5 linked regions of the Homo sapiens genome follow. The protein of the gene in region 4 purifies or fractionates together with the protein of the main gene of each other region. This does not show direct contact. Each region holds a gene or a part of one and is shown on either strand. Other genes may lie near its edges. The genes, in order: ASXL1, ASXL2, KANSL3, KMT2C and BOD1L1.

Region 1 (6,055 bases), on a different chromosome or scaffold from region 4:
TTTAAAAAAATAGGGGAAGGATAGGAGGAGGTATACATTGATCCAAGGGCATTCTCCTACGTAAGCACAATACAGTTATCACACTCAGAAAATTTAACATTAATGCAGCATTACCATCTAGTATGCAGTTCACATTCAAATATCCCAGTGTCTTGAAATTTGCTGAGAGTAGATCTTAATTGTCTTCACACTCCCCATCTCACACTCTCCCTCTCATGGTAACTGTGTGGTGAAGGATTGGTTAATTTTTTTTTTTTTTTTTTTTTTTAAAGACAGAGTCTTGCACTGTCTCCCAGGCTGGAGTGCAATGGCATGATCTTGGCTCACTGCAACCTTTGCCTTCCAGGTTCAAGTGATTCTTGTGCCTCAGCCTCCCGAGTAGCTGGGATTACAAGCGTGCACCACCATGCCCGGCTAATTTTTGTATTTTTAGTAGAGACGGGGTTTCACCATGTTGGCCAGGCTGGTCTCGAACTCCTGACCTTGTGATCCACCCGCCTTGGCCTCCCAAAGTGCTGGGATTGCAGGCATGAGCCACCGTGCCCGGCCTATAGAATTTTTTATATGTAGGATTTAGTGAAAGATCACCCATTATTAATTTTTTTAAAAGCTTCATGATGAAAATTATTCTTGTAAAATGTTAAAATCTTGAATCCTAGGGCATGTTTTCTGGCACCTGTTATTTTCAGTAACCCATTTCGTTTTTGTCAGACATATAGGGTTAATGTATGAAAAGTCAATTATGTCAAACTTATAGAGTTTATATGGAAAGATTAATGATCTTTTACAAATGCAGAATTGGCTGGATGTGGCTAATTGTAGAATTGGCCTGTAACCTAGCACTTAGGGAGGCTGAGGTGGGAGGATCGCTTGAGTCCAGGAGTTTGATTTTTTTTTTTAATTTTTTATTTTTTGAGACAGTCTCACTCTGTCGCCCTGGCTGAAGTGCAATGGCATGATCTCAGCTCACTGCAACCTCCACCTCCCAGGTTCAAGCGATTCTTGTGCCTCAGCTTCCCAAGTAGCTGGGATTACAGGTGTGTGCCACCATGCCTAGCTAATTTTTTGTGTGTGTGTGTATATTTAGTAGGGGGGGTTTCATCATGTTGGCCCAGGCTGGTCTCGAACTCCCAGCTTCAGGTGGTCCCCCCATCTCGGCCTCCCAAAGTGCTGGATTACAGGTGTGGGCCACAATACCCAGCATTTTTTATTTATTTATTTATTTATGTATTTGAGATGGAGTTTCACCCTGTTGCCCAGGCTGGAGTGCAATGGCATGATCTTGGCTCACTGCAGCCTGCATGTCCCGGGTTCAAGCGATCCTCCTGCCACAACCTCCCGAGTAGCTGGGAATACAGGCATGTACACCACACCCAACTAATTTTTGTATTTAAGTAGAGTCAGGGTTTCATTATGTTGGTCAGGCTGGTCTCGAACTCTGGACCTCAAGTGATCTGCCTGGCTTGGCCTCCCAAAATGCTGGAATTACAGGCTTGAGCCACTGCACCTGGCCAAGCCCAGGACTTTGAGACCAGCCTGGGCAACAGACCAAGACCCTGTCTGTACAATAAAAATTATGCAGTATTAGAATAGCAAATCTTACTCTTAAAAGTTTTGTTTTCCTTGTCTTTTTACTGAAAATGCATGGCTTTAGAAACTTCTGGGTAGTTTGAATTGCAGACAACCAGGCCCTATTCCTGTTTGTTTAACTAATGAGATTTGTAAACAGTACTTGGTTTCCCCAGACTCTAGGACCTAGAGGAAGGAAATTTTGATTTAGCTCTTGGTAAAGCATTTAACACCTAATTTTTCTTTTTCATTGTTATTTTCTTGATCACAGAAAACAATACATGTTAATAGTAGAAAATACCCACAATTGAAAAGAATATAAAGCACTTACTAAAACTCTACCACCTAGGCTAGGTACGGTGGCTCACACCTGTAATCCCAGTACTTTGGGAGGCTGAGGTGGGTGGATCACCTGAGGTCAGGATTTCAAGACCATCCTGGCCAACATGGTGAAACCCCATATCTACTAAAACTACAAAAATTAGCTGGGCGTGGTGGCAGCCACCTGTAATCCCAGCTGCTCGGGAGGCTGAGGCAGGAAAATCGCTTGAACCCAGGAGGAGGAGGTTGCAGTGAGCCGAGATCATGCCGCTGCACTCCATCCTGGGTGACAGAGCGAGACTCTTGTCTCAAAAAACAAACAAAAAAACTGCCACCTAGAGATGGTGGTGGCCAACAGCTTAGTAAGAATTTCTCTTGCATTTTTCTATGCAAACACATTCAAATTTTCATTTTTTAAAAAAGATGATAGAATCATACTGTATGAATTTAATTGCCTAATTAAGCTTGTGTATCATCGTTTCTCTTGTCATTAAATGCTGTACAGCTTTCTTTTAAATGGCTATCTGTGGTAGTGTTCCTTGAAGGAAATACCTTAAAATTTTTTGTTTTTAAACTTTTATAATTGTGGGAATGTAATACAGTGAATGCATAGGACACAAATGTTCAGCTTAAGGAATTATTATAAAGTGAACACCCTGTAACTGCCACTTAGATCACGACATCAAATATGGCCAGCAGCCAGGCGCACCTCCCCTACCCCCCACTGCCCCTTCCCAGTCACAGCCCCATTCTTCCAGCTGAAGGTAACTTCTGTCTTGACTTTATGAAAGTTATTTTCTTGCTTTCCTTTAGATTACCTACCCGTCTTTGCATTCCTAATGCTGTAGTTTAGTTGAGCTTATTTTGAACTTTTCACAAACGGAATCATCAACTATGCATTATTTTGTATCTGGCTTTCATTCACTATTTTGTTTTTAATATTCATCTATGTCGTTAGTAGCTATAGTTCATTCATTTTTTGTTGCTGTATAATCATCCATTTATTGAATGTACTACAATTTGATTCTGCCTTTGGCAGCCACTTTGATTGTTTATAATCCAGATTTCAAATGCTGCATCATGAACATGTGGGTTGTGATTTGTGTAGATGTGCATGTACTTCTCTAAGGAATCCAAGCCTAGGAGGGACGTTGCTGGGTCAGAGGATGTTTGTATCTTCAACTGTACCAGATAAGGCCAAATTGTATTCTCAAATGCTTGGATCTGTTTTCAGTGTACTTGTTCTACTCCTAATTAACACTACTTGATATTGTCAAACTTTAATTGTAGCCATTCTGATGGATGTGGTAGTATCTCATTGCGGTTTTAATTTGCATTATTTTGCATTTTCCTTATTGTTAGTGAGATTAAATACCCTTTTATATGTTTTGGCTACTTCAGTATCCTCTTGTGCAGTGCCTAATTCACATCTTTTATTTTTCTTCTGAGTTGCCTTTTGCCCATTGATTTATATTTGTTCCCCCTCTCTCCCCGCCCCCAAGAAGGAGTCTGGCTCTGTCACCCAGGCTGGAGTACAGTGGCACAATCTTGGCTCACTAACCTCTGCCTCCTTCGTTCAAGTGATTCTCCTGCCTCAGCCTCCCAAGTAGCTGGGACTGCAGGTGTGCGCCACCACGCCCAGCTAATTTTTGTATTTTTAGTAGAGACAGGGTTTCACCATGTTGACCAGGCTTGTCTTGAACCCCTGACCTCAAGTGATCCATCCGCCTTGGCCTCCCAAAGTACTGGGATTACAGGTGCAAGCCACCATGCCCGGCCTGATTTATAAATGTAGTCTAAATACAAGTTCTTTATTGGTTATGTAAGTTGCAGATATCTTTTTCAGCTCTGTAGGTAATAATGTTTTTTGATGAATAGGAGGTCTTAATTTTAATGTAGTTTAATTGATTTGTTTTCTCCTTTGTAAGAATCAATATTTTTCATGTCCTGTGTAAATCTCGTATTGGGATAAAAGATACATATATATTTTTTAGGTTTTGGCTAATAGTTTTCCGTTGGCAGCATGTGAACCTTTTTATGCCATTTTTACTTTCATCAAGGGTGTATGTATGATTTTCTCATACTCTTGTCAGAACTGGAGATTTGGGGTAACTTTGCCAGTGTAATAGACTTTCTTAATTCATTAAGGAGTATTTTATCTTAGTTTGCCCATGAGAGAAGAGAGATTAAATTTGTTTTATTATACCAAGAACATGGCAGTCAATAAGCATAACTAAAAATATTATTTAGCTTTTGATTCTGAAGACCATGTATGGCCAGTAAGGAAAAGAGGTAAAGATGTAGAAAACTGTTTTCTTTTTTTTCTTTCTTTTTTTTTTTTTTTTTTTTTTTTGAGATGGAGTCTTGCTCTGTCGCCAGGCTGGAGTGCAGTGGCGTAATCTCAGCTCACTGCATCCTCCACCTCCTGGGTTCAAGTGATTCCCCTGCCTTAGCCTCCCGAGTAGCTGGTACTACAGGCGCGTGCCACCACACCTGGCTAATTTTTTGTATTTTAGTAGAAACAGGGTTTCACCGTGTTGGCCAGGATGGTCTCAATCTCCTGACCTCGTGATCCACCTGCCTCAGCCTCCCAAAGTGCTGGGATTACAGGTGTGAGTGAGCCACTGCACCTGGCCTCTTTTTTATTAATTTAAGATACATGATTTTGGCTAAAACTAATGAAAATAAATTGATGAAACTTCAATGTAGTGGATCAAGAGACTCATGAAATTGATGAGTTAGATTGTTGTGGGCACCTGTTTTAAATTTATGGTGCCTTTTTAGCAGAATCATGACTTTATCAACTCTTTTTCACATACTTTTATTCAAAGAAGACATTCTCCTCCTCTGCCCCAACTTATCTTCTTCTTGTCTCCAACTGCCAGTATTCTCATCCACACTCTTTGTAGTTTTGAGGTGTGAGATAACTCCCAAGTTCTTCTTGGGAATGGGTAGAGTTTAATTCTGAGTCTACATGTCGTGAGTCTATTGGAAGAAGCTTTTCTTAGGAGGTGAAATTTGGGATGGAGTTCTCCTCTACACTCTAGCCCTGTAGCCACAATCTTTGGTTTAGATCTTTGGCATTTTTTGTTGGACATCTTTCATAGTGTCTACCTCTTCTTCCTGCCTCTAGGCTTCCCGCGGTTGCCAGATGAAATTCCGAAAACTCAAATCATTCCTGTAGTTAATATTCTTCAGTGACTCCGGAACAATCAAATTCTTGATCCCTCCACATGGGTCTTACCATCTGCCCTCGTGCCCTCTCTAGCTTCCTGCATATTGAGTTCCCCACAGCCCTAGTTTCCCTGAGTTTGGAATATTCTTTCACATTTGCTCATCCCACTATCTAGAAACTTCCTACAATCTCTCTACTGCCAACCTGTCTGTCTAGTTGCTAATTTATTTTAAAACCCAGCTTAAGCAACACATCCTTTTGGATGTGTTACTTCCCTGATCGTTATTCACCTCCATGCCGTCTTTCGCTCAACTCATTGAAGTTAGGTGCCCCTCTTCTGGGCTGCCACGGCTCTCCATGTTCACCTATGTACTGTACTTTGTATTGTAATCAGTTTAATTGACCCCCCTACTTATTTGAGCTCCTTGAGAGCAGGGCCTTGATTCCTGCTCCTTAGCACTCCACCCTCCCCAGAACTAACATGGTATAGCTTATAGGAGGCACCCTATAAATGTTTAATGAATGTTTGAATGCAAAAGTGTATCTAACTTTCTTAATGATATATTTATGAAAAGAACTTGCTGAGAAAAAGGTCAGTTAGAAAGGGTTAGGAACTTGTCAGTATTCTAAATCCCTCTTTTTCAAAAGCATACACATTTAGGAATGACTGCCTTGCTTTAAGAATTTGTAGGGTTTTGTTCACCTGAGTTGTACCTTGCTGTCACAGAAGGATGCCCTGCAGTGGTCTCGCCATCCAGCTACAGTGGAGGGAGAGGAGCCAGAGGACACGGCTGATGTGGAGAGCTGTGGGTCTAATGAAGCCAGCACTGTGAGTGGTGAAAACGATGGTAAGGACCCTTTAATGGATGGGTGAGGGAGCCACAGCAGGCACTAGGGACTAACCTTTATTTTCCTCTCTTCCAGTATCTCTTGATGAAACATCTTCGAACGCATCCTGTTCTACAGAATCTCAGAGTCGACCTCTTTCCA
Region 2 (6,055 bases), on a different chromosome or scaffold from region 4:
TTTAAATATAAAAGTAATGTTCACTGTGGGGAAATTTGGAAAATTATAAAAAAGTATAAAGAAGAACATTTAAAAAAAATCACATTTATTTCACCGCTCGGCTGTATCTGCTAACATTTGGTATATTACCGTCTAGTCTCTTTATTTCCCCAAATCTAGGTCATACTGTTTATTCAGTCTTGTGCATTTGTTTCTAAACTTTGTGCATTTGTTTTGTAAACTTTATGCATTAGGAGGTTGATGAGTTTTCAATTTGTATCTCTCTTAGTTGGAAATGTAAAAAAGTTAAGAAATAATAGCACATTTTACTTACTGGGTGTTTTCACTTACAATATGTCTTTGTATATCTTCCTGTGCTAGTAGTTTCCCTCTAAAAGATAAGACTCCTATACTTTTTTTTGAAGGTGTAGAGGTTGCATCCCCACAGAGGGCTGTTTTACTCTCAGTATACCTCAAGACCTCTTTCTGTTAATAAAAGAAGCATGATAAATTTTAATTATAGGTAAGCAGACCTGGACCCTAATTTATGCTAATTAATTTTAAGTTCCTAGGGTCTTTAAAATTGTTTTTTTAATTAAAAATATTTTGTAGAGACAGGGTCTTTCTATGTTGCCCAGGCTAGGCTAGTCTTGAACTCCTGGGCTGAAGCAGTCCTCCTGCCGTTGGCCTCTCAAAGCACTAATATTACACAAGTTTCTAGAATCTTAGGAGTGTTTTTTGAATTATGATCCCTTTGATAAAATAGTCATTGGGAGATTGCGACAAATAGGAAAAATTAGTCTGCATCTACTTAGCTTTTCCTATGTTAGTATATTTGCTCATTTCATGCCCTAGCTAGCTATGTGAAAAATAGTATTTAAAAGATGGAAAGACTACTTTGATCAGTAGAGTTCCTGAGGGTACCAGTATATTAGTAGCTTGGTATTTTTCTTTGATTCTGGCAAATACATGAAGCCCCAGTCTCAGTGAAAATGTGTTTTAGAAAGAGAATGATGACACTAAAGTTTTTCTAGTAGCCAAAATCTAGAAAACACTCTTAATTTTGGGGGGTTATTTTATTACCTATAAGTGAGGGGATTAAACTAAATCTCGGTGTTCAAAATATTTCTGTTTTTGGGATAAATAGATGAAAATAAAAGAAGGACCGGGCAAAGGTACATTTGTAATATTTCAGACTGTAGAATAATGAAATCAGAAAATTAGTGAGTTGACAAATGAAAGTAACTTTGACCTAAATAAGAATGTTAGTATTTAGATCCAGAGGAATAGGAAAAGAAGTTTTAAGGCTTAAACTTATTTCTTAGGCATTAGGATGTCAAGTGTTCGAGGAACAGTTTCATCAAGGAAGCAGGTGTCTGTTTCTTATTTCATGTGTTTTTGATACCTCCATTGTAGAGCTATCATGTTTTAGAGAGTACTATTAAAATAAGGTTGTTTTCCTGACCAATAATATACCAATAGATATATTCAACACATTAAATGTAGATATGTGATACTGGGATGATACGGGGTGTGTGTGTTTATGTGGGAGAGCTACATGGTTTGATGTAAGGTTATTATAAGCAAAATAATAAGATTCATAATTATTATCATTATTATTATAATTGTATTTATTTATTTAGAATCGTTTTGCTATGCTCTCCAGGCTGGAGTGCAGTGGCTTCACAGGTATGATCGTGGTGCACTAAAGCCTTGAACTTCTGGTCTCAAGTGATCATCCTGTCCTAGCTTCCCAAGTAGCTGGGACTATAGGCATGTGCCACTGTGCTTGGCTTCATAATTATTATATAATAGTAGATTATGCCAAAAGGCTGATAAAATGAACTTAAATATATACACTGGCTCCAGTAACTAAGGACACCAGAGAAAGGTGATGGAGCTGCGATTCACCTGATCTTGAATGTGCATTCACTACACTGGACTGCCTCCCTGTTGATCTTATTTAAATATGCTAGTTATAAAAAGCATTCTAGTATTTAGTTAACAGTTTCACATGTTTTACTTTTTCTTTTTTTGAGACAGGATCTTGCTCTGTCGCCCAAGCTGGAGTGCACTGCCACGATGGCGGCTCATGGCAACTCAGCCAACCCCTCAAGTGATCCTCCTGCCTCAGCCTCCTGAGTAGCTGGGAGTGCAGGTGTGCGCCACCATTCCCAGCTAATTAAAAAATTTTTTTTTGTAGAGAGAGGGTCTCCCTATGTTGCTCAGGCTGGTCTCAAACTCCTGGGCTCAAGTGATCCTCCTGCCTCAGCCTGCCAAAGTGCTGATATTATAGGCGTGGTCCACTATACTCAGCTGCATGTTTTAAATTTTAAGGGCAGTAGTGATGGTGGTAATGAATGATTTGAGCGAGAGACAAATAGTGTAGTGTTTAGTACAATTTAAATTTGAAAACTTGTAGCTAACCGGGGATATTGAGAGCCATTACATTGACTTTATTTTTTGAACCAGGGTCTCACTTTGTCACCAAGGCTAAAGTGCAGTCTTGTGATCGTGGCTCACTGCAACTTCCATCTCCTGGGCTCAAGGGCTCCTCCCTCCTTAGCCTGTGGAGTAGCTAGTACCACACACATGTGCCACCATGCCCAGCTAATTTTTTTGTGTGTGAGACGGGGTCTCACTTGGTTGCCCAGGCTGGAATGCAGTGGCGTGATCTTGGCTCACTGCAACTTCTGCCTGCCAGGCTCAAGCAATCCTCCCAGCTCAGCTTCCCAAGTAGCTGGGACTACAGGCATGCGCTGCCATACCTGGCTGATTTTTTAATTTTTTGTAGAGATGGGGTTTCGCCATGTTGCCCAGGCTGGTCTGAAACACCTGGACTCAAGCGATCTGCCCACCTCTGCCTCCCAGTGTGATGGGATTACAGGCATGAGCCACTGTGCGGGGCCCACAGCTAATCTTTAAACTTTTTTTTATAGAGACGGGGTCTCGCCAAGTTTCCCAGGCTGGTCTTGAACTCCTGGACTCAAGTGATCTGCCTGCCTCAGCCTCTCAAAGTGTTAGGATTACGGATGTGGGCCACTGCACCCTGCCTGCATTGACTTTAGAACTATGTTCAAAATTAGGCTCATTAAAAAGATGAATCATCTAAATATTTGATGACATCCTGAGGATTTTAGCAGTTTTTGCAAAGCAGAACTTTGAAAATAGCAGTCTTATTGATCTTGTTTGCCTTTTGACTTTTCTTTCCTTACCCATGGCTAGAAAAGCATTAAAAGGTGAAAGAGTCCCAAAAGGACAAGTGTGTGTGATTGTAGGTGGAAGGGATAGAGAGGCAGACTTTAGAGATTATACACTTAAGGGACATTGGGTGTTTTTTTGGGAGGAAAATGGTAAAAAAAAAAATATGAGAAACAAGGTGTGGGTGTTAGAGATGAGGAACATAACCTGTAGTGTAGATCTTTGGAATATAATTTGTAGACTGAAGAAGTAGTTTTTTTGTTTTTTTTTTTAATATATAGACTTTATTCATTGGTTAATTATTTTGAATGTACACAAGATTTTAGTTTTTGTCACTTAAAACTTTTGTCACTTTTGTCACTGCTAAAATCCTCAGGATGTCATCACATATTAATCATCTTTATTTAACTTTAGAAAATAAGGTGGAAGATAGAAAATTTCTATTAAAGATAGGCTAATTACTTTGATATAGGAAGTGTAGAAAATGGAAATATTATTATTTTTTGAGACAGAGTCTCACTCTGTCGTCAGTCTGGAGAGCAGTGGTGCAATCTCGGCTCACTGCAACCTCTGCCTCCTGGGTTCAAGTGATTCTTCCGCCTCAGCCTTCATAGTAGTTGAGATTACTGCACCTGGCCAATTTTTATAATACAAATTATAGAAAGTAAAACGGTAGATTTTTGGCTCATGGATTACATAAAAATTAGTGAGAAAGCATTGGCATGGGCTAAAACTTGAGAAACACTGACAGCTAAGCTATGAGGATGCAAAGGAATAAGAACAATGGAATGGACTTTGGGGACTCTGGGTGGGGAAAGGGTGGGAGGGTGATGAGAGATAAAAGACTACACATTGGGTACAGTGTACACCGCTCGGGTGATGGGTGCACCAAAATCTCAGAAATCACCACTAAAGAACTTATCCATGTAACCAAACACCACCTTTTCCCCAAAAACTATTGGGGAAAAAAACAAAAAAAGAACTTACAACCTCCCAAGAGCCAATAAATAGAGACTTCTGGGAAAAAAAAAATTCTCCTGAGAAACCGTCTGGGCTAAGTGCTTTTTGGTGAGCTAATTCCTTGATAGTTTTGTCTATTTATTCTGTGGAACTTAGTTTGCTTAAGCGTCCTCTCTCTACTAGGGTCAATTTTAGTAAACTGTTTTCATTAACAGTTATCCATATAATAGAGATTCTCAAATTTATTTGCCTAAAGCTATGGAAAATAATCTCATAGAATTTAAAATTTTTCCTCTCTATAGTTATTTCTCCCTTATCAATGCTTACTTTGTATATTTGTATTACTATCTTCTTTATTAATTTTGCTAGTGATTTATCTGTTTTGTTGGGTGCTTTTGTTTTCCCCTAAGTAAACAGATTTTGTTTATGAATTGTTTTTCTGTTCTCTGACCTTATTAGTTTTCACTTATACCTTTACAATTTTACTCTTAGACTTTGTTTTGGTTTCTTTTGTTATCTTTCTAGCTATTTGAGTTGGGAATTTATTTAAGTTTTAATTTTTTTTTTCTCCTTGAGACAGGGTCTTGCTGTGTTGCCCAGACTGGAGTGCGGTGGTGCGATCTTAGCTCACTGCAGCTTCTGCCTCCCAGGCTCAAGGGATCCTCTTGCCTCAGCCTCCCAAGTAGCTGGGACCACAAGCACGCACTACCACGCCTGGCTAATTTTTGTATTTTTTGTAGAGATGGGGTTTTGCCATGCTGCCCAGCCTGGTCTCAAATTCTTGGGCTCTCGCAATGGACCCAAAGTGTTGGGATTACAGGCGTGAGCCACTGTGCCCTGCTAATTTTTAATTTATGTAGCTCTTTGGGCTTGTGAATTTTCCTCTGATCTCTGCTTTACATTTATCCCATAGATCTGTTATGCAAAATTTTCACTCATTGTTTTTCTGAAATTCTATAATTTATTTCTCCTTTTCACCCAAGAGTTTAATAAAAAGTTCTTTAATTTTTAAAAAAATTGAGGAACTGCTCTGATGCATAATTTTCAAAACAACTGTGTATTTACATTCGTCAAATTACTTTCTGCAAGTCTGTTAGTACAAGGTGACTTGATGTAACACTTTTTGCTTGACTGATCTTTCCTTCTTGCCATATTATTTAAAGTTCTCCTGCATAAATTTTGTGTTAATTTCAAATTAGCCAGGTGTGGGTGGCGCATGCCTGTAATCTCAGCTACTCAGGAGGCTGAGGCAGGAGAATCACTTGAACCCGGGAGGCGGAGGTTGCGGTGAGCCGAGATCGTGCCATTGCACTCCAGCCTGGGCAACAAGAGTGAAACTCTGTCTCAAAAACCAAAATAAATAAAATTTTGTGTTAATTTCATAATTTTTTCTGACCTGTTTTTATTCCTCTATCCTGAAAGCCCACAAGCCTCCTAGTTTGTTGAAGGAGGGGAAAAAAGCAGATTTTTTTTTGAACACTTAAATTAAAAATTTCTATGAAAGGTGCTGCTGCTGCTGCTACTCCTGCATCTCTTGTAGAATTCTGAAAGGCGTTGAGAAAATAACCTCAGGTTTGCAAAAGTCCTTTCTGCTTCCCCATCCACAGATTCTATCTACTCTTGAGAGGCTGGACAATTTTGCTGTGGGACATTTTTCCCCCCCTCTACGAAAGCTGTCTGGAAGGAGGCCAGTGTGGAAGATATAACTAAACTTGCTATCTTTGTCCTGTTTACAAAAGAACTCTGAATACCCCTCTATTTCTGTATTCTTTCTTTTTACATCTCATAGAGGCCATCCTCATAGTTGATATTTTTAAATTTAGTATTTTTAGTACAGTGTGATTTGTTATGTTTTTACTATTGTTAAAAGGTTATTGAATGAGCTAAATTTTAGAACTCTAAATATGATTTAAAA
Region 3 (6,055 bases), on a different chromosome or scaffold from region 4:
TACAGGCGCCCGCCACCATGCCCGGCTACAACAGGGTTTCACTGTGTTGACCAGGCTGGCCTCGTACTCCTGACCTCAAGTGATCTACTTGTCTCGGCCTCTGAAAGTGCTGGGATTACAGGTGTGAGCCACCGCTCCTGGCCCTTTCTTTGTTTTTAAGGACATGGAGACAGAGATATCTCACTATGTTGCCCAAGCTGGCCTTGAACTCCAAGGTTTAAGTGGTCCTCCCGCCTCGGCCCCCAAGTATAATACTCTTTCTTTGACATTGGCTTTCTAGCACTGTGCCTTCCCATATCTTAGCATTTATTGCTGTCTTTTTAGGGCACAGCTAGGTTTTTATAGGTCTCACCCAGGAAGTCATGATTAGTTTCTCTTAGCTGATCTAATTTCCCCTGTGACCTTTTCAAGTCAAATATTTCTAATCTTAAAATGGTAATCTGAGGAGCCACTCAAAGATTAGAAGTTAAGCCAAAAAACAGTTTGAGTCTAGTACTGAGTGTGCTTTCCTTCAGTATCCGCTATACAGCCAAGGCCTTCCTGTGTCTCCCTGTCCTTTCCACCATGTCAACCTGCTTGTGAACTGGAGGTGCAGTGATAGTTCCTGAGCCATTCTAAAAGCTCTTCTGTCTCTTCCTCTTTAGGGAAAATACTGCACAGAGGTCAACACCTGACATTCGTTGGGATCATAGCTACCTTTTTTTGCAGAGGGATGGAAATGTTTTAATTTTATCTTATTTCTTATTTTTTCAATTATAAAAATGATTATGCTTATTTTAAATAATTCAAACATTATAGAAATAATTAATTTAGAAAGGGAAAGTTTCCCATGATGCTACTCCTAGAGATGATGTTCACTGTTAATAGCCTGATATGGATCCATTCAAATTTTTTTTTCTACACAAAGTATGTTATTTTATTTATTTTGTACAAATATGGGATTACAGAGTATGGACTGTTTTGTAACTTGCCTTTTTTTATAAATCATGTCGTGACACGTTTCCCTGTCTGTGTCTTTTCAGAGGCTGGCTAGTATTTCACTGAGTAGATGTATGAAGATGTATTTCACCACCTTCTGTTAGGTAGATAGCTGGGTTCTATTTTGGTTTTTGATATTTTAAATAATGCTCTGGTGAACACTTGTTTATTCTTGTGTACCTCTGGGAGCATTTCTCCAGGCCAGAGAATAAGTAGAGGATGTGTACCTCTAATATCTGGGCAGCTGCTCACTAACTGCCCTTCAAAAAGTTTTTGCTACTTTACAATTCTAGCCACGGTGATGAAAATATGTTTCATATTTTGTGGAAATCAAAATTTTAACTTTATTAATCTGGGTGAAAAATGAAATTGTTTTAATGTGCATTTTCCTGATTACTTAAGAAGTTTTATGTCTTTTATGAAATGTTTGTCATACTCTTTGAATTATAGTGGCTTTGTATATTCAGATGTTAAATCTTTATCTGTTACACAAATTACATATATGTTATTCCTGTCAGTGGCTCATATTTTTTTTTCTTTCTATTGAAGCATTCATTGAATGTCAGTCAGTCTTTTAACTTTTATTTCTAGATCATACAGCCATTTAAATGTTTCATATAGTAAAATCTTCAAATATTTTCCTTTATAGCTCCAAAGTTTTATGCCTTAAGAAAGCTAGCCCTATCACAAGAATATAAAAGTAATCCTTTTTGTTTTTAAAATTTGAATTGTGGTAAAACATATATAACATACAATGTACCATTTTAGCCATGTTTCAAGCTTACAGTTCAGTAGCATTGAGCACATTCACATTGTGGTACAGCCATCACCACCATCCATCTCCAGAACTTTTCTGTCATCCCATATTGAAACTCTCTCTTTGTGTTTTCTTATAATGCTTTTGCTTGTTTCCTTTAATTCCTTATAGTTCACTTTTGTATGTTAAGTGAGGTAAGGATGAGTCCATTCATCATTCCTCCACTCATCTAAAATCCACTGCTGTCACATTCTAAAGTACTGAACACATATGGGCCTGTTCTGTAGTTTTGAATTTGTCTATCCTACGCTGGCCTTCTGTTATGGGTTGATAGTATGGATCTTGAAGTTAAGGGAGTGTCAATTCTGTTTCTAGTTTGCTAAGATAATCTTCATTCTTTTCCTTTCTCATGATAGTTTTGAATTTTTTCCATTATTCTTTTAGAATCACATGAAATGAATGAGGATAAACATTTCCTTTTTTTTTTTTTTTTTTTTTTTTTTTGAGACAGTCTCACTCTTGTCACCCAGGCTGGAGTGCAGTGGCACGATCTCAGCTCACTGCAACCTCTGCCTGCCAAGTTCAAGCTATTCTCTTGCCTCAGCCTCCTGAGTAGCTGGGACTATAGGCTCATGCCACCACCCTCAGCTAATTTTTCTATTTTTAGTAGAGACAGGGTTTCACCATGTTGTCCAGGCTTGTCTTGAACTCCTGACCTCAAGTGATCCACCCACCTTGGCCTCCCAAAGTGTTGGGATTACAGGCGTGAGCCATCATGTCCGGCCAACGTTTCCTTCTAATCAGTTAAAATGATGAGTTACTTTAATAGGTTTCCTAATATCAAACTGTGTGAATTCTAGATGCAGTGGCTTTTTCAGTGTGTCCTATTCTTTTTATTATACATACAAAGGCAACAAGACCCTATCAAAAGAACGAAATGAAAAAAGAAAGAAGCTAAGCATTTCAAAAGAAAAGCATGTCTATTCTATTTGCTTTTATTTTACTTAGGATTTTGGCGTCTATATTAATCTCCTCAGGCTTTGGCCCATAGTTTTCTTCCCCTCCACCCCCTACTTCTGTGTGTGTGCTTTCCTTTGTCTAGTTATGTAAAAGGGGTAATTCAATCCTTGTAGAATGAGATGGGAAGTGCTTTTCCCCTCTCATACTCTAAAACAGTTTTATAGTACAGAAATGATAGTTCCTTGATGGGTTGATAGAAGTGACCTACAAAGCCATTTGGGCCTGTTTTTAGGGTGTCTTCGTTTGCTGATGCCATGTTGATGGACAACTAGAACACAGATCCTGCCACGTGATCCCTTCCTCCTGTGTTAGGTAATCCGTCTCAGCTTGCCATGGCCTGGGCCAGCCAGTTACCATTGAGAAGAGAGTAGAGGTCATTGAGAATCCCCCTTTTCTGGAGCTCAGTTGAAGCACAGAATAAAGATCAAGGTCTGGCCTTCTAACTGATGATGTTAACATGAGATTAGTTTTCATCTTAATAGAATGGACGTAGGCTGGGCATGGTGGTTCACGCCTGTAATCCCAGCACTTTGAGAGACCTAGGCGGGTGGATCACGAGGTCAAGAGATCGAAACCATCTTGACCAAAATGGTGAAACCCCATCTCTACTAAAAATACAAAAATTAGCTGGATGTGGTGGCGTGCACCTGTAATCCCAGCTACTTGGGAGGCTGAGGCAGGAGTATTGCTTGAACCTGGGAGGCGGAGGTTGCAGTGAGCTGAGATTGTACCATTGCACTCCAGCCTGGGCAACAGAGCCAGACTCTGTCTCAAAAAAATAAAATAAATAAATAAAATAAAGTGGATATGTAATTGCTAGGAGGAGTCAGGTGGTGATTCTTTTCCAACAAGCAAGGGGATGTTATTAGATTAAGGCTTCTTGCTGATTCAGAAGCTTCTAATAGCTCTGTTCAGATTGCCAGACAGAGCACTGGACTATGGGTCAGGTCATCTGTTTTCAGCCAGCTGTGTGATCCTGGGCAAATCACCTATCCTTCTGGGCTTTGGTTTTCTTACCTGGTTTAGAGAGGAAGTTGACTTAATTCAGTGACTGTTGTGGTGGCAGGATCAGAATCTCCTCAGGCTTTGGAAACCGACGTTTTTTAATGCTTAGAAACAAACTACCCATTTTTTTGACATTTATGAGGCAATTGGAAATTTTAACACTGACTGGATAGTTGTTGATATTACGGAATTGTTAACCTTTTTAATGTGTGATAATGGTATTGTTAGGATTTTAAAACAGTCATTTTTTATTTTGGGGTTCCATACTGCAATATTTTTGGATGGAATGAATTTAAAAAGAAAAGTGAACACCAACTAGACTTCTCTAAGATCTGTATAAGCACTTAATTATCTGTTTTGTTTCTGGCACTGATTGGTGTTTACTATGTGTTTCCTTCATGGGAATGGACTATTGTGTACTCATCACAGCTGAGAAGCTGCAGGGAGGAAGAGGACAGACAGAGACTATGTTGTGCCCTGCATCAGGGTCCAAAAAATGGACTCCCTGCCTGTGGTTATAAGTTCTCTCTCCTCTCTGTCCTGCTGGCCATACCAGGACCTTGTCAGCCTGGCAAGCAGCACCTCTAGCTGGAGGCCTCTGGCAGTGGGCCTCACTGTAGCCTTGTAGCAGGCTGTGGGCAAGCTGGCTCACTCTAAGGTGTATTCATAATCAGAACAGAGTGATCATCTGTGTACAGCCCTGCCTTTGGGCAGGGAAGCCCATGAGGTTTTGTTTTTGTTTTTGATTGAGATGGGGTCTTGCTATATTGCCCAGGTTGGTCTGGAACTCTGGGCTCCAGCAGTCTTCCCACCTCAGCCTCCCAAAGTGCTGGGATTGAAGTCATGAGGTTTGATTGTCAAACTCCTCTTCATTGGTGTGATTATGGCTCACTGCAGCCTCAACCTCTTGGGCTCAAACAATCCTGTGGCCTCGGCCTCCCGAGTAGCTGGGCCTATAAGGCATGCAGCACTATGCTCACCTAATGTTTGAAAAAATTTTGTAGAGATGGGCTAAGTTGCCCAGGCTGGTCTTAAACTTCTGGGCTCAAGCAGTCCTCCTGCCTGGCCTCCCAAAGTGTTGGGATTATAGGCATGAGCCACCTCGCCTGGCCTTCCCTCCTTTACTACATTCTCAGAGACCTCTTAGGAGTTTCCCAAGGGGGAAATTTAGAAAAGTGGGGAAAGCGTTGGTAAAAAAGGCCACCCTCTCTACTTGCTTCCTTATTCTTAAGCTGCAGGGCTCAACATTGATGGCATCCCCCCACACCTACATGTCTAAGGCCTCAAAATCAGAAGTCACGGAAATCTTCCCTTCTGTTCTGTTGCCCTTAAAAACTCACCTATTTCCTTTTTTCTGCATTCCTTTTCTGTCTTCATGTGTAATAATATGAGGTGACCTTTGTTGTTGAGCACAGATTAAACTCAGGAGCTTTATGTGGATTATTTCATTTAATCCTTACGGTGACCCTGGAAAGTAGATGCTGTCATCTACCTCTTACAGGCGAGGAAAAGGAGGCTCAGAGAACATAGGCACTTGCCTTAAAAAGTGGAAAGTTGAGTCTCTCACTCTAGAGTCCATGTTCTGTTAACCACTTGGCAGCTAGAACATGTGTCCTTGTGTATCCAACTTCTTTCCTATTGAGAATTAATTCTTTAAAATAAATTCTCAGGAGTTGGGATAATTGGGATAGAGGGTCTGAATATGATGATAACCTGTCAAAGCTTTGACCCTTCTTCACTACCTCTCCTGCCACAGCGCCTGCCTCCAGCACCCTGAAGATGCTGTGTGATATGTCCTCCTTACCAAGTTGGTGATGGCTGCCTCATGGTGGGCCCTGGACAGGTGTGTGGTCCTGCTGAGCTGTCCACGTGTCGGAAGACCTGTTTAAGACAGTCATTTTTGCCTCTCCGCCAACTGTCTTCAGAGAAACCATTAGGTTAGGTGATACGGTGCCAGCAAGGGAAGCACCATCGTCCAGGATCTGCAAATCTGGTTCCTGGGAACCCCAGACTCCTCAGCAGATCTGGCTGTACATGGATCAGAACCACTTCTTCCCCCGCTTAAGCTGTGGTTTGACCCAAGGGTCAGCATATAGGACTGCCTGCTGCATTTAATGAAGGTGTTTCCTTTTGGAAGTCTGTGCTACCCTCTGCGCCTAGTTGGGAGGAGACATCCATCTGGTCTGGGATTTCGGGAGTTAGAATGGAAAGCTCTTTGCTAAAGACTGGAGTCATCCTGGCCTGCCAACTGGTGGTTCAGAGCCGGACGGGCTTGTTTTGGACATCACTGTTGCC
Region 4 (6,055 bases):
CTTGCATTTTTGCTACTTTGTCCCTTGAATCTAAAAACTTCCCAACTTTACAAGCTACGTTGTTAATAAGGCAGCACTTCATTTAGAAAACGTTTGTTTGGCCTACAGTGTGCCACGATCTTTGTTCTTTGTAAAAAACTTAATATAGGTCTATGACCTCATGAGAATACGGCCTGAATAAGATTAACTGTCAGCAGTTCATCAACATTCTTTATTACAACACATCATTAGCATGGCTCTGAGAAAGTGTTATACTCTGTTCTTTTGTTGCAGATTGGACTACTAGAGTGAAGCAAATTGCCAAATTGTGGAGAAAAGCAAGCTCACAAGAAAGAGCACCATATGTGGTATTTTAAGAAACTCCTCTATCTTTTAAATATTTAAATACAGTGCTTGAACCTTATTTGTATTAGGTTAATAAAAAACAAATTTCCATTTCAGAAAATGCTTGTTAGTACCTGTACAACAAGCAACTTTATTTTTAAAGTGATTTTCTAACTCCTTATGTCTTAATAGAGAGTGTGACATTTTTATAAGCAAGTTAATAGAACCAAAACGTTGAAGATTGAAAATCAGCTGTTTTAGGGGGGAAGGAGTAATTCATTTCACTTTAAAATTGTTTTATCTCTTCAGCAGAGGTACAGTTGGCCGTCTGTATCCATGAGTTCTATATCTGTGGATTCAACCAACCATGGATCAAAAATATTTTGGAAAAACATCTATACTGAACTTGTACAGACTCTTTCCCTTGTCATTGTTTTTAAAACAATGTAACAACGATTTACATAGCATTTATATTGTGTTAAGTATTACAAGTAATCTAAAGATGACTTAAAGTATACAGGAGGGGCCAGGCACAGTGACCCACACCTGTAATCCCAGCAGTTTGAGAGGCCAAGGTGGGCAGATGGCTTTGAGCCCAGGAGTTCAAGACCAGCCTGGGCAACATAGCCAAAACCTCATCTCTATAAAAAATGAAAAAATTAGCTGGGTATGATGGCGCATGCCTGTAGTCTCAGCTACTTGAGAGACTTGAGAGGTTGAGGCTTCAGTGAGCCAGAATTGTACGACTGCATTCCAGCCTAGGTGACAGAGCAAGACCACCCTGCTAGGTCAAAAAATAAAAAGGGAGAAAGTATACAGGAGGATATGTGTAGGTTATATGCAAATACTGTGACATTTTCTATAAGGGACTTGAGCATCTGTGGATTTTGGTATCTGCAGGGAATCCTGGAACCAATACCCCATGGATACAGAGGGACAACTGTACTAAATTTGGAGACTGGATTGGCATGCCTCAGTGTCTTCCACAGTCACCTCTTTTCTTGTTAGGTTTCATAGAGAATCTTTGTGCATCTTGAAAGAGAAATATTTAGACATGTTTAAAGAGTTTTTGACACATGATCTTTGCCATGAACTATTAGGTAATTTTATAAGATTCGCAGTTCATATGGTAAATTATTTTCTCCCAAAGAGCCAAATTAAGATTGTCAGCTGGAACCAAATCCTTGCTTTCGTTTTAAAGCATATTAAATCTGTATTATTGTTGGAAAATATATATAGTTATTTTCCAGCTTGTTCCCCAGTGCACATATTTTCAGTTACAGTGATTATTTTGGATAGAGCATATATGTGTGTATATGCTCTATCACATATATATATATAGATGTGTTAATATGCTGTGTTTTATTTTGACTTGAATTAGGTAATGACAGAATTTTTAAATTTTTAAGTGATTTCTTTAATGATACGTTTCAAATATCCAGATTTTTTTTTTTTTAAGACTGATTGGATATTTTTCCTTTTTTCTAAATTTTTTTTTTTTTTTTTTTGAGATGGAGCTTCACAGTTGTTGCCCAGGCTGGAGTGCAATGGTGCGATCTCGGCTCACTGCAACCTCTGCCTTCCAGATTCAAGCGATTCTCCTGCCCCAGCCTCCCAAGTAGCTGGGATTACAGGCATGTGCCACCATGCCTGGCTGATTTTTCTTTTTCTTTTTCTTTTTTTTGAGACAGAGTTTTGCTCTTGTTGCCCAGGCTGGAGTGCAATGGCGCAATCTTGGCTCACCACAACCTCCGCCTCCTGAGTTCAAGTGATTCTCCTGCCTCAGCCTCCCGAGTAGCTGGGATTACAGGCATGTGCCACCACATCTGGCTAATTTTGTATTTTTAGTAGAGATGGGGTGTCTCCATGTTGGTCAGGCTGGTGTCGAACTCCCGACCTCAGGTGATCCACCCGCCTCAGCCTCCCAAAGTACTGGGATTACAGGTGTGAGCCACTGCGCCTGGCCTAATTTTGTATTTTTAGTAGAGGTGGGGTTTCACCATGTTGGTCAGGCTGATCTCAAACACCTGACGTCAGGTGATCCACCCGCCTTGGCCTCCCGAAGTGCTGGGATTACGAGCATGAGCCACCATGCCTGGCCCCAGCCCCTTCTTTCTAAATTGAAGGAGACATAATTTCTAAGGATATGTTAAGAAAACTAGGAGCTAAAATATTAAATCACACCTAGGATCTTTAAGCTTAATTCAAATACATAGAAATATATCCTCAACTGATAGGTACTATGCACTGTAAAGAGAGAAGATGAGTTAGTGTCCAGATCCTTTTTTGGGAGGTGCCGTAAGTATTTCAGCTATTTTACCTGACTTTTTTTTCTTTTATTTGAGAAAGTTCATGATAGTTTTATTTTATTCCTTAAAACATTTAACATAATCTGGGAAATTTTTTTCTCTTCTTTTGTCAAAGCAAAAAGCCAGAGATAACAGAGCTGCTTTACGCATTAATAAAGTACAGATGTCAAATGATTCCATGAAAAGGCAGCAACAGCAAGATAGCATTGATCCCAGCTCTCGTATTGATTCGGAGCTTTTTAAAGATCCTTTAAAGCAAAGAGAATCAGAACATGAACAGGAATGGAAATTTAGACAGGTATGGAATTTTTGGATAATCTACTTTTTGAAGTTGCATTTTTGTTTTGAGAAGGGAGGTCTTTGCATTATTATTTTAGAATATAGTTCTTAGACCATGAAAATTTGATTTAGGATAGACTTGTTTCTCTTTTCAGTAAAATATATTTAAATTGATTTGAGAAATTTATTGAAATATTATAAACAATATACTGCCCTAGGCACAAATGGAACATACCATGATGAGTAATTTCTCTTCTTCAGGAATTCATAATCTAATATGGGAGCAATCTGGTAGCGCTGACATCAAACAAATTAACTTTCTGTTGCTTTTTCCCCCCATGATGGTAGTTTTCTTCCTTAACCTAAATATGATTGCTTTTTCTTTTCTATTTTAATAGCAAATGCGTCAGAAAAGTAAGCAGCAAGCTAAAATTGAAGCCACACAGAAACTTGAACAGGTGAAAAATGAGCAGCAGCAGCAGCAACAACAGCAATTTGGTTCTCAGCATCTTCTGGTGCAGTCTGGTTCAGATACACCAAGTAGTGGGATACAGAGTCCCTTGACACCTCAGCCTGGCAATGGAAATATGTCTCCTGCACAGTCATTCCATAAAGAACTGTTTACAAAACAGCCACCCAGTACCCCTACGTCTACATCTTCAGATGATGTGTTTGTAAAGCCACAAGCTCCACCTCCTCCTCCAGCCCCATCCCGGATTCCCATCCAGGATAGTCTTTCTCAGGCTCAGACTTCTCAGCCACCCTCACCGCAAGTGTTTTCACCTGGGTCCTCTAACTCACGACCACCATCTCCAATGGATCCATATGCAAAAATGGTTGGTACCCCTCGACCACCTCCTGTGGGCCATAGTTTTTCCAGAAGAAATTCTGCTGCACCAGTGGAAAACTGTACACCTTTATCATCGGTATCTAGGCCCCTTCAAATGAATGAGACAACAGCAAATAGGCCATCCCCTGTCAGAGATTTATGTTCTTCTTCCACGACAAATAATGACCCCTATGCAAAACCTCCAGACACACCTAGGCCTGTGATGACAGATCAATTTCCCAAATCCTTGGGCCTATCCCGGTCTCCTGTAGTTTCAGAACAAACTGCAAAAGGCCCTATAGCAGCTGGAACCAGTGATCACTTTACTAAACCATCTCCTAGGGCAGATGTGTTTCAAAGACAAAGGATACCTGACTCATATGCACGACCCTTGTTGACACCTGCACCTCTTGATAGTGGTCCTGGACCTTTTAAGACTCCAATGCAACCTCCTCCATCCTCTCAGGATCCTTATGGATCAGTGTCACAGGCATCAAGGCGATTGTCTGTTGACCCTTATGAAAGGCCTGCTTTGACACCAAGACCTATAGATAATTTTTCTCATAATCAGTCAAATGATCCATATAGTCAGCCTCCCCTTACCCCACATCCAGCAGTGAATGAATCTTTTGCCCATCCTTCAAGGGCTTTTTCCCAGCCTGGAACCATATCAAGGCCAACATCTCAGGACCCATACTCCCAACCCCCAGGAACTCCACGACCTGTTGTAGATTCTTATTCCCAATCTTCAGGAACAGCTAGGTCCAATACAGACCCTTACTCTCAACCTCCTGGAACTCCCCGGCCTACTACTGTTGACCCATATAGTCAGCAGCCCCAAACCCCAAGACCATCTACACAAACTGACTTGTTTGTTACACCTGTAACAAATCAGAGGCATTCTGATCCATATGCTCATCCTCCTGGAACACCAAGACCTGGAATTTCTGTCCCTTACTCTCAGCCACCAGCAACACCAAGGCCAAGGATTTCAGAGGGTTTTACTAGGTCCTCAATGACAAGACCAGTCCTCATGCCAAATCAGGATCCTTTCCTGCAAGCAGCACAAAACCGAGGACCAGCTTTACCTGGCCCGTTGGTAAGGCCACCTGATACATGTTCCCAGACACCTAGGCCCCCTGGACCTGGTCTTTCAGACACATTTAGCCGTGTTTCCCCATCTGCTGCCCGTGATCCCTATGATCAGTCTCCAATGACTCCAAGATCTCAGTCTGACTCTTTTGGAACAAGTCAAACTGCCCATGATGTTGCTGATCAGCCAAGGCCTGGATCAGAGGGGAGCTTCTGTGCATCTTCAAACTCTCCAATGCACTCCCAAGGCCAGCAGTTCTCTGGTGTCTCCCAACTTCCTGGACCTGTGCCAACTTCAGGAGTAACTGATACACAGAATACTGTAAATATGGCCCAAGCAGATACAGAGAAATTGAGACAGGTAAACACATTGTATGTTCTCAGTTTTAAATGTATTATTTGAGGAAGCTGTTCATTTCATCAAACTGAGTAATTTCTACACAGGAGTTAATGTTTTATTTTTTTTATTCTGTAGAGTTTGTCATACTGCAAAAAAGAAAAATGAAATTGATGAAATTAACACCAGTTTAATTTATTCTGTATCTGATTTCAGTTTTCACGAATTCGCAGGGGAATCCTTAAATATTAAAGCTTTGTTTTGTGATAGTTGTCTGGCAAGGAAAAGGACCCAAATCATCAAATTATTTTTCCTAATATATTGAATAGTTAAATGTAACTGGTATTTCATCAAACTTTGAAACATTACCATAGCCACATAATGAAAGTATCAGGATTTAAAAAGCCACTAACCTGTCAGGCACGGTGGCGCATGCTTGTAATCCCAGCTACTTGAGAGGCTGAGACAGGAGGATCACTTGAGTCCAGGAATTTGAGGCCAGCCTGGGCAACATAGCAAGATCCCATATCTAAAAATAAAAAGCCAGTAACCTTTAAAAAGCCATTAATTACCACAAATCCCAGTGATTTTTGTTTCTTCCCATTTAGCGGCAGAAGTTACGTGAAATCATTCTCCAGCAGCAACAGCAGAAGAAGATTGCAGGTCGACAGGAGAAGGGGTCACAGGACTCACCCGCAGTGCCTCATCCAGGGCCTCTTCAACACTGGCAACCAGAGAATGTTAACCAGGCTTTCACCAGACCCCCACCTCCCTATCCTGGGAACATTAGGTCTCCTGTTGCCCCTCCTTTAGGACCTAGATATGCTGTTTTCCCAAAAGATCAGCGTGGACCCTATCCTCCTGATGTTGCTAGTATGGGGATGA
Region 5 (6,055 bases), on a different chromosome or scaffold from region 4:
AGCAAGTTGCACAGGTTCAGAAGATAGCAGCGAAGGCTTTGCTATAAGTTCTGAATCGGAAGAAAATGGAGAGAGTGCAATGGACAGCACAGTGGCCAAAGAAGGCACTAATGTACCATTAGTTGCTGCTGGTCCTTGTGATGATGAAGGCATTGTGACTAGCACAGGCGCAAAAGAGGAAGACGAGGAAGGGGAGGATGTTGTGACTAGTACTGGAAGAGGAAATGAAATTGGGCATGCTTCAACTTGTACAGGGTTAGGAGAAGAAAGTGAAGGGGTCTTGATTTGTGAAAGTGCAGAAGGGGACAGTCAGATTGGTACTGTGGTAGAGCATGTGGAAGCTGAGGCTGGAGCTGCCATCATGAATGCAAATGAAAATAATGTTGACAGCATGAGTGGCACAGAGAAAGGAAGTAAAGACACAGATATCTGCTCCAGTGCAAAAGGGATTGTAGAAAGCAGTGTGACCAGTGCAGTCTCAGGAAAGGATGAAGTGACACCAGTTCCAGGAGGTTGTGAGGGTCCTATGACTAGTGCTGCATCTGATCAAAGTGACAGTCAGCTCGAAAAAGTTGAAGATACCACTATTTCCACTGGCCTGGTCGGGGGTAGTTACGATGTTCTTGTATCTGGTGAAGTCCCAGAATGTGAAGTTGCTCACACATCACCAAGTGAAAAAGAAGATGAGGACATCATCACCTCTGTAGAAAATGAAGAGTGTGATGGTCTCATGGCAACTACAGCCAGTGGTGATATTACCAACCAGAATAGCTTAGCAGGGGGTAAAAATCAAGGCAAAGTTTTGATTATTTCCACCAGTACCACAAATGATTACACCCCTCAGGTAAGCGCAATTACAGATGTGGAAGGAGGTCTCTCAGATGCTCTGAGAACTGAAGAAAATATGGAAGGTACCAGAGTAACCACAGAAGAATTTGAGGCCCCCATGCCCAGTGCAGTCTCAGGAGATGACAGCCAACTCACTGCCAGCAGAAGTGAAGAGAAAGATGAGTGTGCCATGATTTCCACAAGCATAGGGGAAGAATTCGAATTGCCTATCTCCAGTGCAACAACCATCAAGTGTGCTGAAAGTCTTCAGCCGGTTGCTGCAGCAGTGGAAGAAAGGGCTACAGGTCCAGTCTTGATAAGCACCGCCGACTTTGAGGGGCCTATGCCCAGTGCGCCCCCAGAAGCTGAAAGTCCTCTTGCCTCAACCAGCAAGGAGGAGAAGGATGAATGTGCTCTCATTTCCACTAGCATAGCAGAAGAATGTGAGGCTTCTGTTTCCGGTGTAGTTGTTGAAAGTGAAAATGAGCGAGCTGGCACAGTCATGGAAGAAAAAGACGGGAGTGGCATCATCTCTACGAGCTCGGTGGAAGACTGTGAGGGCCCAGTGTCCAGTGCTGTCCCTCAAGAGGAAGGCGACCCCTCAGTCACACCAGCGGAAGAGATGGGTGACACCGCCATGATTTCCACAAGCACCTCTGAAGGGTGTGAAGCAGTCATGATTGGTGCTGTCCTCCAGGATGAAGATCGGCTCACCATCACAAGAGTAGAAGACTTGAGCGATGCTGCCATCATCTCCACCAGCACAGCAGAATGTATGCCAATTTCCGCCAGCATTGACAGACATGAAGAGAATCAGCTGACTGCAGACAACCCAGAAGGGAACGGTGACCTGTCAGCCACAGAAGTGAGCAAGCACAAGGTCCCCATGCCCAGCCTAATTGCTGAGAATAACTGTCGGTGTCCTGGGCCAGTCAGGGGAGGCAAAGAACCGGGTCCCGTGTTGGCAGTGAGCACCGAGGAGGGGCACAACGGGCCATCAGTCCACAAGCCCTCTGCAGGGCAAGGCCATCCAAGTGCTGTTTGTGCGGAAAAAGAAGAGAAGCATGGCAAGGAGTGCCCCGAAATAGGACCATTTGCAGGAAGAGGACAGAAAGAGAGCACTTTACACCTCATAAATGCAGAAGAGAAGAATGTATTGTTGAACTCCCTTCAGAAAGAAGATAAGAGCCCAGAGACAGGGACAGCAGGGGGCAGTAGCACAGCAAGTTATTCAGCAGGAAGGGGCTTAGAGGGGAATGCTAACTCACCTGCCCACCTGAGAGGACCAGAACAGACGTCTGGGCAGACGGCTAAGGATCCCTCTGTCAGCATTCGCTATTTGGCAGCAGTAAACACCGGTGCTATAAAAGCTGATGACATGCCACCTGTTCAAGGGACCGTGGCTGAGCATTCCTTTCTTCCTGCTGAGCAGCAGGGGTCTGAAGACAACTTGAAAACCAGTACCACCAAATGTATTACTGGCCAAGAATCAAAAATTGCTCCTTCCCACACAATGATCCCTCCAGCTACTTACAGTGTAGCTCTGTTGGCTCCTAAATGTGAGCAGGACTTGACTATAAAGAATGATTATAGTGGCAAATGGACTGATCAAGCATCTGCTGAGAAAACAGGAGATGATAACAGCACAAGGAAATCATTCCCTGAGGAAGGAGACATAATGGTTACTGTGTCTTCTGAAGAAAATGTGTGTGACATAGGTGAGAATCTGTACCTAATTGCAAATTTTAATATTTACAAGGATGATTGTACAACAGAGTGCATTTAGGACAGTCTTCCAAAAGATGGTTTTGGTTCCAGAAAGATAAAATATCTATAAATTTTTTTCTCATATCATAATGTTGCAAAATAACTCTCATCAAACTTGAAGGTCAAACTTCTCTAAAAGCTACTTGTGTTTAAAAGTTTAAAGCCTTTGGCCCATTTCTCATGTGTGGGGAGAGAAAAAGCAGGAGGCTGAGGCATGGGAAGTCCACATGTTATTTACATGACTGCTGCAACTTACTAAACCTTTTTGACCTACAGGTTTTTTGTCAATCAAAAAGAAGAATACCCTACCACAACCCAATGAAAGCAATACATTTTTTTTTTACCACCCTCATTTTACAAACGAGGAAATAGGGTCAGAAAATTTAAATAGCATTCATGGTCCTCGGGTGACTTTTAGAGGAAAAATCAGTTTCTGAGCCTCCATTTCTTGTTGTATAAAATGGGGATAATAAGACGGGATGATAATACAAAGGCAAACACGATTCCAACCCTCATCTGATCATAGGTTTGCAGTATTTGTTTGTTCAGTCTGTTAGTTCCTTTGAATCAAAGGAGCATGTTATTTTTAACTGAGCTTATTTTTCAGGTGAAATGAGTTTCTAGTTTAGAATATATTTGAAAGTGAAAAGAAACATTTTTCCCTGCTGACAGATTTTGGACAGTGCTGGTCTTTTAGAAATAGTTAATAACTTTCAAAGATATTATCTCAGTCATGCCTTATACCGTCCAACTTCAGATACTTTATACCAGTCCAGATTGGAGAAAAGTGGACAGTGACACTTTAAAGCATGACAATTGCATAGACTGGGATTAAGCACAGGATGCTGTAGGAACAAAAGGGTCCTCATGGGCTGGACTTGAAGGGACAGAGGAATTCTTTTCCACTCTGGCTATATAAATTGTAGCATCCTGGACTTTTAACTGAAATAGACCTTAGCCATCATCTAACCCAGTCTCAGGAAGCTGAGGCTAATAGATTTAGTCTTGTTCATTATAGAGACTTAGGAGACTTTAAGAAATGCTCCAAGGGTTGAAACAAGTAACTTTACAAGTTTCTGTTGAATTTAGCCTGGAGTAAATTGAATGCTCCAGAAGTTTTTATGACTCAATCATTGCTACAATTACTCATTCCTCCTTTTTTCCTGAAGAAGTGAAAATAGAAGGGTTTCCACAGAAGCTTCTACACAATCTAAAGAAGGATATAAGAGGCAAGACCAGAGTAGAACTGAATCTCTGCACCTGAGAAAATTTTTTCTTTTTGTCTACCTCACAGTTTAACTTTGTGTTCAATTTTTCTGTGTTCAGTGTGAAGCAAGTAAAGTGAATCTGTTAATAAATCACCTTTACTGAGAATAGACCTTAGTGACTCAGAATATTTTTAAGGACAAACTTGATGGAGATCACTGCAGAAAAATACTTGGAAATGAAGATGTCTCCACAGATAATACTTTTGTCATTCTTTCTGGGCAGTTATCTTACTGTGCAAATAAGAATTTCACTCACCCAAAATGAGCAAATAATCCCTGCCTTTCATCCAGATTCTTTTATACAACATATTCCTTTTGATCATTTTCTACTGACAGCAAAATAAACCAGAAAAGGAAGGTGCAACAGCATGTCAGATAACCACATTCCATTACTTTTTGACCCCAGATGTATTTTGCAAGCAAATTCTTAAACTGTACTAAATGGCTTGAATTTTATTAGGCAATGAAGAGTCTCCATTGAATGTTTTGGGAGGATTGAAACTGAAAGCCAACTTGAAAATGGAGGTATGGCTTATAATTCAGCTGTGCTGAACTGTAAGTGATTAAATACTGTTTCATCACATATACACATATATATACTTATGTGGTATATAGGTCCTGTTCTCATTGTACTTATGATATTTAGTGTTGTTATTGCCATATCCTGTGGGGGGAAAGCTAAGAACCTCAGTAATCTTAGTAAATAGTGCTATCATCAGTTCATTTACTCAAGCCAGAAACACAAGAGTCACCCTCAGTTTCTCCGTCATCCCACATTTAATCTATCGCCATTTCTTACAGGTTCCATTTCCAAAATATAACATGAGTCCATCTATTTCTGTTTCTACAGTCATCACCCTAGGCTAAGCCACTACTTCAGTAGCCTCTCCATTAGGCTTAGTTCACTCCAGCCCTCCTCCAGTGTGATTCACACAGTCCTGCAGGTAGTCATTAGAAACATAACTTAGGCCCTGTCATTGCTCTGCTTAAAATTTGTGGTGGCTTCCCATCATGCTTAGAATAAAATCTGCTTTTTTTTTTTTAAGCATGGCTTTGGTGCTTTACACAATTTAGTCTCCATATCCTCTTTCTAGCCTGATCTGAAGGCACCATCCAAGTATATGTGACAAAACAGCAGTGAACATGGGGGTTATGAACACTACAGAGGAAACACAACTTGCCCAATAGTAGCAATAGGCAGGTAGACAGGAGGGCTTGCAAGGAGGACACTGGAATAGAATTTTGAAAGTAGAGTGGAAATTTCCCAGAAAAGAAAGAAAAGAGCCTTCCAAGCAAAGAGAATGTTGTGTTCTAGACTCAGAGACAGGAGGGCACGTGGTGTGTCTCAGGCGCTGCAGTGGTTCACGGTGAGCTGTGATGAGACTTGAGCCTGGAAGGGAGTGGGAGCCCATCAGGAAGAGTCTTGTGTGGTGTGCTGAGTTGGGGTTTTTACCTTTAAAGCAATAGAATACCCATTGATGGATGAAATACGAGATTAAATTGATTTTTTACTTGGCTTTGTTTTTAAAGGTTGATGTATTTATTTTTAAGTTTTGTGTACTCTTGAAAATAGGCTTTTATATTGTTTCAGGATGCTGGGTTTTTTTTTGTTTAATTCACTTGAGGTTAGTCTTCTTGTAAAAACCCTGGTTAACTTATTTTTATGGTGCTTTGGATTTTTTAGGCTTATGTGCCTTCAGAGGAAGAGAAAAATGGTGAAATTCTGGCACCACCAGAAAGTCTGTGTGGGGGAAAGCCAAGTGGAATAGGTGAGCTCTTTAGAATGGTTGTTCACATTGTTTTTGTTTTTGCCTTGCATGTGGTTTTACCTTTCTAAAAATCAATAGCTGATGCATAGTAACATACAGGCTCTATTAACTTGCCTCTCACTTTTTAAAATAGATTAGGGAGAATTCTTTACTATTTTATTTTTAACATACACTTTTCCTCATGAAATGTCAATCAACATTATGTAGGGTAATTGTTTAAATCTGATTACCCCCAAATAATAATGCAAAACGAAAGTTGTTTTGGAGCAAACTCTTGCTCTATCCCAGAAATGTTTCTCCATACCCCTGCCTGTCCCCAGATGCTATTGCAGCTTACTTCCAAAAGGCTAGTCTGAGGATAAGGGCCCACTTTACACCATTTGCTCTTGTCTCTTGCTCAGGCTTTTCCCCAGTGGCTGCACA

What was found.
Region 1: the proteins of KMT2C (region 4) and ASXL1 purify together in Homo sapiens (affinity purification with mass spectrometry, with the first as the bait; one large-scale study listed by BioGRID). This does not show direct contact.
Region 2: the proteins of KMT2C (region 4) and ASXL2 purify together in Homo sapiens (affinity purification with western blotting; one study listed by BioGRID). This does not show direct contact.
Region 3: the proteins of KMT2C (region 4) and KANSL3 purify together in Homo sapiens (affinity purification with mass spectrometry, with the first as the bait; one large-scale study listed by BioGRID). This does not show direct contact.
Region 5: the proteins of KMT2C (region 4) and BOD1L1 purify together in Homo sapiens (affinity purification with mass spectrometry, with the first as the bait; one large-scale study listed by BioGRID). This does not show direct contact.

Annotation. Positions count from the first base shown.
Region 1 is NC_000020.11:32,422,336-32,428,390, forward strand, and holds part of ASXL1 (polycomb group protein ASXL1), read left to right. Parts: intron 1-5,792; coding exon 5,793-5,913; intron 5,914-5,989; coding exon 5,990-6,055.
Region 2 is NC_000002.12:25,871,040-25,877,094, reverse strand, and holds part of ASXL2 (putative Polycomb group protein ASXL2), read left to right. Parts: intron 1-6,055.
Region 3 is NC_000002.12:96,595,093-96,601,147, reverse strand, and holds part of KANSL3 (KAT8 regulatory NSL complex subunit 3), read left to right. Parts: intron 1-644; coding exon of another isoform or gene 645-674; exon of another isoform or gene 675-1,022; coding exon of another isoform or gene 1,023-1,082; exon of another isoform or gene 1,083-1,495; intron 1,496-2,987; exon of another isoform or gene 2,988-3,067; intron 3,068-5,516; coding exon 5,517-5,537; 3' UTR 5,538-6,055. UniProt on the Homo sapiens protein: Non-catalytic component of the NSL histone acetyltransferase complex, a multiprotein complex that mediates histone H4 acetylation at 'Lys-5'- and 'Lys-8' (H4K5ac and H4K8ac) at transcription start sites and promotes transcription initiation.
Region 4 is NC_000007.14:152,179,850-152,185,904, reverse strand, and holds part of KMT2C (histone-lysine N-methyltransferase 2C), read left to right. Parts: intron 1-273; coding exon 274-347; intron 348-2,748; coding exon 2,749-2,931; intron 2,932-3,310; coding exon 3,311-5,194; intron 5,195-5,778; coding exon 5,779-6,055. UniProt on the Homo sapiens protein: Histone methyltransferase that catalyzes methyl group transfer from S-adenosyl-L-methionine to the epsilon-amino group of 'Lys-4' of histone H3 (H3K4).
Region 5 is NC_000004.12:13,595,437-13,601,491, reverse strand, and holds part of BOD1L1 (biorientation of chromosomes in cell division protein 1-like 1), read left to right. Parts: coding exon 1-2,546; intron 2,547-4,323; coding exon 4,324-4,388; intron 4,389-5,547; coding exon 5,548-5,632; intron 5,633-6,055. UniProt on the Homo sapiens protein: Component of the fork protection machinery required to protect stalled/damaged replication forks from uncontrolled DNA2-dependent resection.